Homo sapiens: one gene and its partner. The protein of the gene in region 1 purifies or fractionates together with the protein of each later gene. This does not show direct contact. Each region holds a gene or a part of one and is shown on either strand. Other genes may lie near its edges. The genes, in order: ZNF431 and TYRP1.

Region 1 (2,823 bases):
TTGTTTTTGAGACATAGTCTTGCTCTGTCACCCAGGCTAAAGTGCAGTGGTGCAATCTTGGCTCACTGCAGCCTCTGTCCTCTGGGTTCCAGTGATTCTCCTGCCTCAGCCTTCTGGGTAGCTGGGATTACAGGCACACACCACCATGCCTGGCTAATTTATTTATTTATTTATTTATTTTAGTAGAGACTGGGTTTCGCCATGTTGGCCAGGCTGATCTGGAACTCCTGACCTCAGGTGATCCACCTGCCTTGGTCTCCCAAAGTGCTGGGATTACAGGCATTAGCCACCGTGCCAGGCCTCAGCACAGTCTTGAAGAAGATAGGCCTTGGCTGGACAGGTAAGCTCTAAGCAATTGTAAATAACTATCTTGTAAAGATGTATAATTTTTATCTTGTATTTATTTGCCATAAATATTTATTAAGTTGTAATTTTCACAACATTCCATTTTTATTCTGATATCTACAACTATATCTACATAACACCAATTCCAGTATTTTAATAAACAGAAGAAATGTATATATAGCCTTGCAAAAAATATAAGCCTGATACATTCATATCTGTATAAGATTTGTAGAATTTCCTAAAGTTCAAGGAAGTACACACACACACACACACACACACACACACCATTAAATTCAAATCAAATAGATTTATATTTTGTCAAATTGAATGCTATATAAAATTTATAACCAGATAACACAAAATATAAATCGAATCATGAATACACTGATGATAATATCTACCACAACTTACGAATATGATTTCCAGTTAAAAAGAGAAAAATAATTGCTTTGCTGGATTTTCAGTGTGTGCTAATCACTATCACCATTACAAAAGATCAATTTAATTACAGATTATCCAAAGATGTATCACACATCTAAATATTAAACTTTACACTGCAATAAAATATTTAAATCTGCAAGAAGACACTAGAACATATGGTCAATAATACCATGAGCTGCCACAGGTTTTTAATAGATAATGCAAATGACAATCAACTATATGCCACCACAAGAGAAAAACTGGTACTGGTGAATCTCATACGTATCAAGGAAGAAAAAAATGCAGAATTCAATATGCAAAAAAGATTGTTTATACCAGGTATATACATCATAATCATGGTTGTCTGATACATTAAGTGTTCTGTATTAGAGTTTGCAAAATATACATAATTCTATTGCTAATGAGGAATTAGCCAAAGCCCAACTATTCAATCGCCCATAAAGAAAAATTTTTTAGAAAATTGTGTATCTTTTAAAAAAGTTGGAAGTGAAACTGTTGACCACTTCGGAGCTTTAGAAGTTCCTTTTAATGGTAGTTAGATGGCAAGAGCTGGCATTTTGGTTACATCAGCCAATTCAAAACTCACAGAGAGAAGTTACCAGGTATCAAATTTTAAGGCAGATTTTATTCATTAAAAGCATCTTAAGAAGCAGCAGAAATTGCAGAAATGAAGCAATTCAGCATTTCTACTAATAATAATTTGTATTAAGCATGTCGTTAGATTCTGTGTTGGCCATTTGACATCTGCGATTCTTAACTGCTCCATAAACCTGCTGAATCACAGGGCCACAGGAGCAATCACTGTTGTTTACACGCTTTTTGTCAGGCAGCTCTCATGAGCCTGCAAATGTTGTTATTCCCAACCACTGACACCAGCATTCATTATTTTACTTTGTATTCAATAGGAAAAAGCCCCACGTTTTTGCTTCCAATCATCACGTTCATAAAGCAATAGTCCCACCTCCCTGATAACTCTGCTTTCTCACCCTTGCATAAGACCGCCTTTGTGAGGCCCCCAGGGCCTGCCTTGCCTCTTGTTTCTGGTGGGAGTGTATTAAACACCTTTTAATGGCATTCACCTTTCTTTTGTAAATTAAAATCCTAGCAAAATTCGAGAAATCATGTTTCTGTGCTTTGTTACCAGAAATAATATGGGGTTGGGCCAGGCATGGTGGGTCGCACCTGTAATCCCAGCACTTTGGGACGCCGGGAGTTTGAGACCAGCCTGGCCAACACAGCAAAACTCGATCTCTACTAAAAACATAAAAATTAGCCAGGTGTGCTGGTGGGCACCTGTAATCCCAGCTACTTGGGAGGCTGAGGTAGGAGACTCACTTGAACCCAGGAGGTGGAGGTTACAGTGAGCCAAGATCGCACCACTGCACTCCAGCCTAGGCCACAGAGCAACACTGTCTCAAAAAAAAAAAAAAAGTAATCGACATTTTGATAAAAAAACAAAAACTTATTTTGTAGGCTGCTCTAGGCAGCATAGACATTTTCTATTCATTCTTCAAATCCATGAGCATAGAAAGCTTTTTTATTTGAATTGTCTCTGATTACTTTCAGTAATGTTTTCTAGTTCTTGTAGAGATATTTTACCTCCCTGGTTTGATGTATTTCTAAGTATATTATTTTTTGTTTATGGCTATTGTAAAGAAAACTGTTCTTGATTTTGTTCTCAGCTTGAATGTTATTGGTGTAAGGCAATGCTATTCATTTTTGTATATCAATTTTGTATCCTGAGACTTTGCTGAAGTCATTTTTAACCTTAGGAGTCTTTTGGTAAAATCCTTAAAGTTTTCTAGGTAGAGAATTATATCATGAGTGAAGGTAATTTCACTTCTTCTTTTCCTATTTGGATGCCATTTATTTTTTCATTTTGTTAGATTTATCCAGCACTTCCAGAACTATGTTAAATAGAATTGTTTAGATAGTCTTATTTTTTTTCTAATGAGAAATGCATGCCCCTTTTGTCTGTTCAGTATGTTAGCTGAGGATTTGTCATAGATGGCTCTTATTATTGTGAGGTATGTTTCA
Region 2 (7,909 bases), on another chromosome or scaffold:
ACTTTGTGCCAAATAAAAAGCCAATGTCTTTTCACTAAAAATATTGCCTGACTGATATAATTATTTTGATATTTTTCAACTTTTTTTCAAATTTTACATATTTTAGGTGTACAACATGGTGCTTTGATATAAATATACATAGTAAAGTGATTACTATAGCCAAGCAAATTAAAATATCTGTCCTCTTATATAGTGATGTGATATTTTAATAGGTTTCTTCTGTAAGACTCAAAGGGTAGGGAACGTGGAAAAATATAGTTCAATGAAAATATGAGAGTCTAAATTGAAAGGAATTATTTTTCATGATTTAAACCCTATACCATGTTGGAGGGAATCATCGCTGGAATGATGAGATATACATTTAGGACTGGAAAGATTGAGAAGTCTCTAACCCACATCACTTGACCAGGAGGAGGAATCTGCTTATATTTAGTAGAGAAGGAAGACATGCAAATGAGATTCTTCTGTTTCAAGCTTTATGAAAGTCATGTTTTCAATGAAACTGCAAAATATTTTTAAACTTTTAATTCATTCCTGCAAATGTCTCATTTTGCTCATTATTGATTTTGCTTTATTTTCACTTCACCAAGATAAAGATTAATTAACAAGTAACCAAAATAAGGAGAAAACGAAATGCCAAAGACAGGTTAGTAACATAAAATTGCTTTTTCATCAAATGTTCTGATGATTCTGAAAACTAGTGAATTAAAATCACTTACAAACAAGGCATCTTGTCTGTAAAGAGTCTGCAAACTGAAATGCTTCTTACATACCTGCATGTCTTTCTCCAGACGCAGGAGGTGGTACCTGTGCCATGTGAGAAAAGCTGGTCCCTCATGAGAGAAATCCACTTCACCAAAGCTTTCCTGTCCTACCCCAAGGAAAGTCTTTTTGACTGAGTAATAGTGTGTCCAAACAAAGTAGTTATAAATGGAAATGTTCTCAAATTGTGGCGTGTTGCCATCTGGCCCCAGTATTTCTTCTGATCTCCTGGTGGCAATGACAAATAAAGGGTGAGTTGTGCGCTTTGCCATATCCAGGGCCCGGACAAAGTGGTTCTTTTCTTCTTTACTTAAGTCCAGAAGATTTCTCCTGACTTTAGGGATACAAAATTCAAGCATGAAAACATCTGCCTTGCGGGGATGGGTAGAGAAAGAGCATAATCATCTTGTAACACACCACGACCCATTTATCCATCTGTTCAAATGTGTTTTAAATTATTTTACACTTTTAAAAATATCCTTAACTAAAACCCTTTCTTCAAGCCTGCTTTCTCTCTCTTTCTTCCCTTTTCTCTCTCCAATTTACTGCATGATTTATATTACCTTTCTTTAATCTTACCTATGGATTTTATGTTTCTGTGACCTTGTCATGTTGATTTCTGCCCACTGTTGGCATTTTTGTTGGAATTTTCTGTCTTTTTAACATTATAAATCTTTGAAAATTAGGTGATATAACATAGTAGTTAAGACCAGAGAATTATTCTATGACTTTGGGCACATTTTTCCAAGTCTTAGTTTTTTTTTAATCATTAAAATGTGGATAAAAATAATACTTGCTTTACAGAATTGAAAGTTCAAAGACCACACACATAAAAAGCAATTAGCCCAAGGCCTAACTCATAGTAAGGACTCAATACATGTTCATTTAAACCCTTAGTCTACTATCTCGCACATAGAACACAATCAAATATTGTTGGCTGTTACTGTTTAGTGCTTTGTTATTTAATGCTATTTAGTCTGCAGGCCAAACTCTTCATCTCAAATGCTGAATTTGATCATCATGGTGGGAAACTTCTTTAAGGGTCAGCAGGGGTAGTTGCAGAACTAAAATATAAGGGCTAGGTAGATCTCAGCATGAATTCCAGGTTTACTAAATATCACCTGTGTGGATTTGAACTTTCTGAACCTCATCTATGACAATTAACATGTTTACCTGAAGGAGTTACTGAATTGACTAGTCATAATACCTAACACAGTTCCTAGGATATAGTGGTTGCTCAATAAATGTTTCAGAATAAAATATTGATCAGAAGTTCTGAGCTTCAACTCCAACCCTTTACATTAAACAAGTTTCTTAACCTTTCTAAGCCTCAGTTTCCTCAACTATGAAAAGAGAGGGTTGAGCTATATGATTTCCAGGTATTCCTCCAGCTCAAATGATTTAAGATTTTATTAAGAGCCTTGAGTCTCATGCAGGACTTATGAACTCATTCATATCTCCACTTACCTATGAGAACCCTCTGGTCACAGGCAGCTCCTCTCCAGCCAGGACGGCACGTCCCACAGTTGTGTCCTGAGAAATTGCCGTTGCAGTGACATGTCCTATTGAAGAAGCGCAAGGGCCAGACCTCCCGATCATCTCTGCCATCATGGGGATACTGAGGGCTGTGGGGCCGGGAGTCTGCAGTCACTGCCTCACATCTGCCCCTCCCTGATGATGAGCCACAGCGGTCTGTCCCAGGCCCAGACACAGGGGACAGGTCTGGGCAACACATACCACTTCTCAAAGCCTCAACAGTGGCACACTGTCTTGGGAATTGAGCCCGGGCCTGCTGAAAAAGTAGCAAGGGGAAGAAGATACAGCCCAGAGAGAGGAGTTTAGGAGCACTCATTCTGCTTGAAATAAGAGTGCAAAACAAAGACCTGGTTTGCAGCTCTTTGTGTAGAGAAGACTGAAGCACGTAGAGGAAAATCCAGCTGAAAAAGAGAAAGTAAAATGAGATTATGCAAGTTTTTCTTGGTACTTAAAATGGTATGCCCCCTTCCCAAACCACTTTCAAAATGGAACCCATATGTAAAATGACATTTCACACAAATAATAAAAGTGTGACATTTCACACAAATTTTACCTTTAAAATTTGGCATATATAACACCTGCATGTGTGATACCCAAATAATTAAATTCCCTGTCCTCGTCATTTTGTTTATATATATATACATACTAGATATCAGTTATCAAAAGCATGAATTAGCAGGTCACCATCATTAATTACATTTAATTTAACCTTGGAGCTGAAGGAAGAATTGGGAACAGATTTCCAGCAAGTTAATTTCTGTGATTTAAAGTCCCTTACACTAATGGAGTTTTGGCACGTGTCCACCCACTCCCCATAGGACTTCTTTCCAGTACCTCACAATCCTGAAGGATGTCTCTGATGAACTTCTCTTAGAATTGAATGTTTTATATTTGCTTGTGTTTCTTGTCCTCTCACGTCAGAACTGTTAAGTGCATGTGGATTGCTGCCTGATAATTAATCCCAAATCTGCTCACCCAAACTAGGCGGGGGGCTGGTCTTTTTTTCCACCCTTTACTAATCCTTTTCACTTCAGTGAATATTTCTGCCCTTTAAGGACTTGATCAGCACATGATTCCCTTCCAACTGATTTCCTTGTGATGCTTAAAGTTTTAAGAAAAGGCCAGAAGCACTAATTTGGAATACAAGTCAGATAAACTAGTGAGATTTGTTTACTTTGCAGAGATTTTTTTTTATTCTGTTATTCAACTGTTATTCAACATATTACCTTGCTAGAGCAACCAGGCAAGAGAAGGTATAAAGAGCATCCAAATTGGAAATGAAGAAGTCAAATTATCCTTGTTTGCTGATGATAAGATCTTATATTTGAATAAAACCTAAAGACTCCTCTAAAAAACTATTAGAGCTGACAAACAAATTCAGTAAAGTTGCAGGATACAAAATCAGCATACCAAAATCAGCAAAGTTTCCATATACCAACAGTGAAAAATGTGAAAAAGAAATAAAAAAGTAATCCCATTTACAATAGCCACACATAAAATTAAATACCTAGGAATTAACCAATGAATGAAAGGTCTCTATAATGATAACTACAAAACATTGATGAAAGAAATTGAAGAAGACACCAAATAATGGAAAAATATTATATGTTCATGGATTGGGAGAATCAAGATTGTTAAAAAGTCCGTATTACCTAAAGCAATCTACAGATTCAATGCAATTCCTATCAAAATACCAAAGACATTCTTCACAGAAACAGAAAGAAAATCCTAAAATTTATATGGAACACCAAACCTTGAAGAGGCAAAGTTATCCTAAGCAAAAATAACAAAACTGGAGGAATCATATTACTTTACTTCAAATTATACTACGGAGTGATAGTAGCAAAAACAGCATGGTACTGGCCTAAAAACAGACACATAGAGCAATGGAACAGGAGAACCCAAAAACAAAATCACACACCTACAGTAAAGACATTTTTCACCAAGATACCAAGAACATACACTGGGGAAAAGACAGTCTTTTTAATAAATGGTGCTGGCAAACTACATACCCATATGCAAAAGAATGAAACTAGGTCCCTATCTCGTTCCATATACAAAAATCAAATAAAAAATGATTTGATTAAATATTTAAATCTGAGACCTCAAACTATGAAACTACAATGAAGAAACATTGAGGAAAATCTTGAGGACATTGGTCTTGACAAAGATTTCTTGAGCAATACCACACAAGCACAGGTAGCCAAAGCAAAAATGAACAAATGGGATCACATCTAGTTAAAAATCTTCTGCACAGCAAAGAGTACAATCAATGAAGTGAAGAGACAACCCACAGAATGGGATAAGATATTTGTAAACTACCCATTTGACAAGGGATTAATATCCAGAATATATGAGAAGCTCAAAAAATTCTATAGAAAAAAATTAATAATCCAATAAAAAAATGGGCAAAATATTTGAGCAGACATTTATCAAAAGAAGACATACAAATGGCAAACAGACTTATGAAAAGATACTCAACATTATTGATCATTAGAGAAGTACAAATCAAAACTATTGTGAGATACCCTCTTACCCCAATTAAAATGGCTTATGTCCAAAATTCAGGCAATAAGAAATGTTGACAAGGATGTGGAGAAAAGGAAACCCTCATACAGCGTTGGTAGTAATGTAAATTAGTACAACCACTATGGAGCAAAGTTTGGAGTTTCCTCAAAAAACTAAAAATTGAGCTACTATATGATCCAGCAATCCCACTGCTAGATATATACCCAAAAGAAAGGAAATCAATATATTGAAGAGATATCTGCACTCCTATGTTTATTGCAGCACTGTTTACAAAGCTAAAATTTGGAAGCAACCTAAGTGTTCATCAATAGATGAATGGATTAAGAAAATATGGTACATATGCAAAATGCAGTAAAACAATGAGATCCAGTCATTTGCACCAACATGGATGGAACTAGACATTCTGTTAAGTGAAATAAGCCAGGCACAGAAAGACAAACATCACTTATTCTCACTTATTTGTGGAATCTAAACCTCAAAACAATTGAACTTATGGACATAAAGAGTAGAAGAATGGAGGCTGGGAAAGGTAGTGGGTGTCTGAGGGGAGTAGGGAAGTAGGGATAGTCAATAGGTACAAAAAAATTAGCAAGAATGAATAAGACCTACTGTTTGATAGCACAATAGGGTGACTATAGTCAATCATAACTGTATATTTTTAAATAACTTAAAAAGTGTTATTGGATTGTTTGTAACTCAAAGGATAAATGCTTGAGGGTATGAATACCCCATTCTCCATGATGTGCTTATTTCATGTTGTATGCCTGTATCAAAATATCTCACATACTCCATAAATATATACACCTACTCTGCACCCATGAAAATTTTTCTGCCTCATTGTGATTCATTCGAAGAAGAGAAGGGCATCAAAGGAGGATAACTAAGTCATCTGGATGGCCTGGAGCCATGTTTGAAAAATTTTATTGTTAAGTATTGTTTTTTTACTGGTTAAATCAATGATAACATTCTTTACTTTGTGATTGTGTTACTCAAAAGAAGGATTTTTTTAACAATGATAAAAATAAAGCTTGTTAGATCATTAAAAAATTTAAAAATTTATAAAAAAGAGTGGTCTGACAGAAGTTTTTAATGAGTGGACATATCATTTTTTTTTTTTTTTGGGACAGGGTCTCACTCTGTCGCCCAGGCTGGAGAGCAGTGGCATGATCAAAGATCTCTTAGCCTCACACATCTAATGGGTAAAATTCCTCATATACTCCTCAGTGTTTCCATCATTAAAGAAGAGTAGCAACAGACCCCCTTCCTCACTGAGCTTACTCTAGCTGGGCAGGCAGAAATATGACTGCTAAAATATGTCTGTGGAAATTTCTAATAACGAACACAAAAAAATAGAATTTTGCTGAAGAGTAAGATCATTATAGATTGCATAATCTGTTTTTTTTCTTGCCAGGGATTGAGGTTGCTAACGTTTGAAGAAAATGTACTACTGACACTTGGGGATTGTAGAGCTTCTATGGTGCCAAGATAATATTCTGTGCTTGTATTGCTATTATCTAAATGCACAATGGGAATCGATACCATGCGTTTCTAACATCCTTAAGGGCAAGGTAGTACACTCTATGAAGGATATTGTGATTACTGCCTGCACTGTGGAAAAAGCACAGAAGGAGACAAGAAATACAATAATCTGTAAAACAAACTGAAGCCTAATCAAAAGCACAGGTAAAATTCAGAACTTGGTCTACCCTATAACATTTTGAAGAATTACATGGTCTAGAGAAACCAGGAAAATTTCCAACTGTGAGAAATTAAGTACTCTCTCTTAGTAACCCTCCACTAAACAGGAAAACCAGAGATCTATGGGACTTACTGTTGGCAAAAAACACACTTCCTATTTAGGAACACTGCTGGTCCCTACTCACAAATAATGCAATGAAAAGCATTTAAAGATTTACAAAGGAGTGTGTCATCCTATCGGAAAGATTGGCCTGACTTCTCTGTTAACTTTTAGAATTGTCTTCACTAAAATGCCATAAATTGGGTACTATCAGAAATTAAATACTGCTAATCAAAGGAGACTCCAGGTGTTTGGAATTCAACTCCTCCTCCTCTTGCCTATTTTAAGGAAAATTTTTTTTAATTAGGCATTTGTGGAAGCTGACCTCACTACTAAAGGACATCGAATAATTCTGAGACCAGAAAAAAAAAACAGTTATCTTTGGGTAATGTCAGAGAAACAGTCAAACAGAGAGAGAGATAGAGAGAGAGGGAGAGACAGAGAAGATCAGGAGAACTTACTGATGAAAGGAAACAGTACATGCAAGAACATATGATGGGGGAGGTTTAAAGGGTAAAGCCTACTTCCTTTAGAAGCAAGAAGTAAATTGGCCTGTCATCCAAAAGACAGCAACTGCCACTATCTCACTTCCCCTTCATCTTGCTCGTAAAAGTAGCTTCATGTATAAAAAGAACTAACTGAAAGCCTAAATAATCTAAATCTTTTTTATATCTGATATAGAAATATAAAATCACATGTATAAGATTGGTCATATTGAAACATTTAGAAATAAGGTCTTGGAAATCCTACAGGTTGAAAATATTTTAAAAACCTCTTACCCTAAAAAGTTTAAAATTAAACCTTGAAATTTGCAGATGGAGATGTGTGGCACTGGATGGATTTATCATAATCAGTGTCAAATTTACTAATAAAATGGGATGAAACCCATATGCAGTGATGAATTGAGGAAGATCAAATGAGTTTGGCTACATTTCAAATAACTTTTTTAAATTGAATCAGCATATTATAATTTTCCAGGGTATAGAGGAGGAGATGAGACATTTAAGAAGTTAAAATTAGGCAATCTGGAGAGACACATGAAAAGCATTACCAGCAGTAAGGGACTTGGTGTGTTATGATTACTGCTATTTTTCTCACAAGCAACTTGTATACGTTTAGAAGGATTATCACTCCTCCCTTTTCTTCGTCTCTCTCTCTCTCCACTGACACACACACACACACACACACACACACACACACACACACAGAATGAGAGAGAGAGAGAGAGAGAGAAACATGCATGCACACACCATATGCTACTTACTCTGGAACGTATAAAGGCCC

Evidence for each region.
Region 2: the proteins of ZNF431 (region 1) and TYRP1 purify together in Homo sapiens (affinity purification with mass spectrometry; 2 studies listed by BioGRID and IntAct, with this or other methods). This does not show direct contact.

Annotation. Positions count from the first base shown.
Region 1 is NC_000019.10:21,193,868-21,196,690, reverse strand, and holds the end of ZNF431 (zinc finger protein 431), read right to left. Parts: 3' UTR 638-2,823; downstream 1-637. UniProt on the Homo sapiens protein: Sequence-specific DNA binding transcriptional repressor. Represses target gene transcription by recruiting HDAC1 and HDAC2 histone deacetylases. Acts as a specific transcriptional repressor for PTCH1 during embryonic development.
Region 2 is NC_000009.12:12,688,702-12,696,610, reverse strand, and holds the start of TYRP1 (5,6-dihydroxyindole-2-carboxylic acid oxidase precursor), read right to left. Parts: upstream 3,227-7,909; 5' UTR 3,133-3,226; intron 2,700-3,132; 5' UTR 2,615-2,699; coding exon 2,230-2,614; intron 1,097-2,229; coding exon 774-1,096; intron 1-773. UniProt on the Homo sapiens protein: Plays a role in melanin biosynthesis. Catalyzes the oxidation of 5,6-dihydroxyindole-2-carboxylic acid (DHICA) into indole-5,6-quinone-2-carboxylic acid in the presence of bound Cu(2+) ions, but not in the presence of Zn(2+).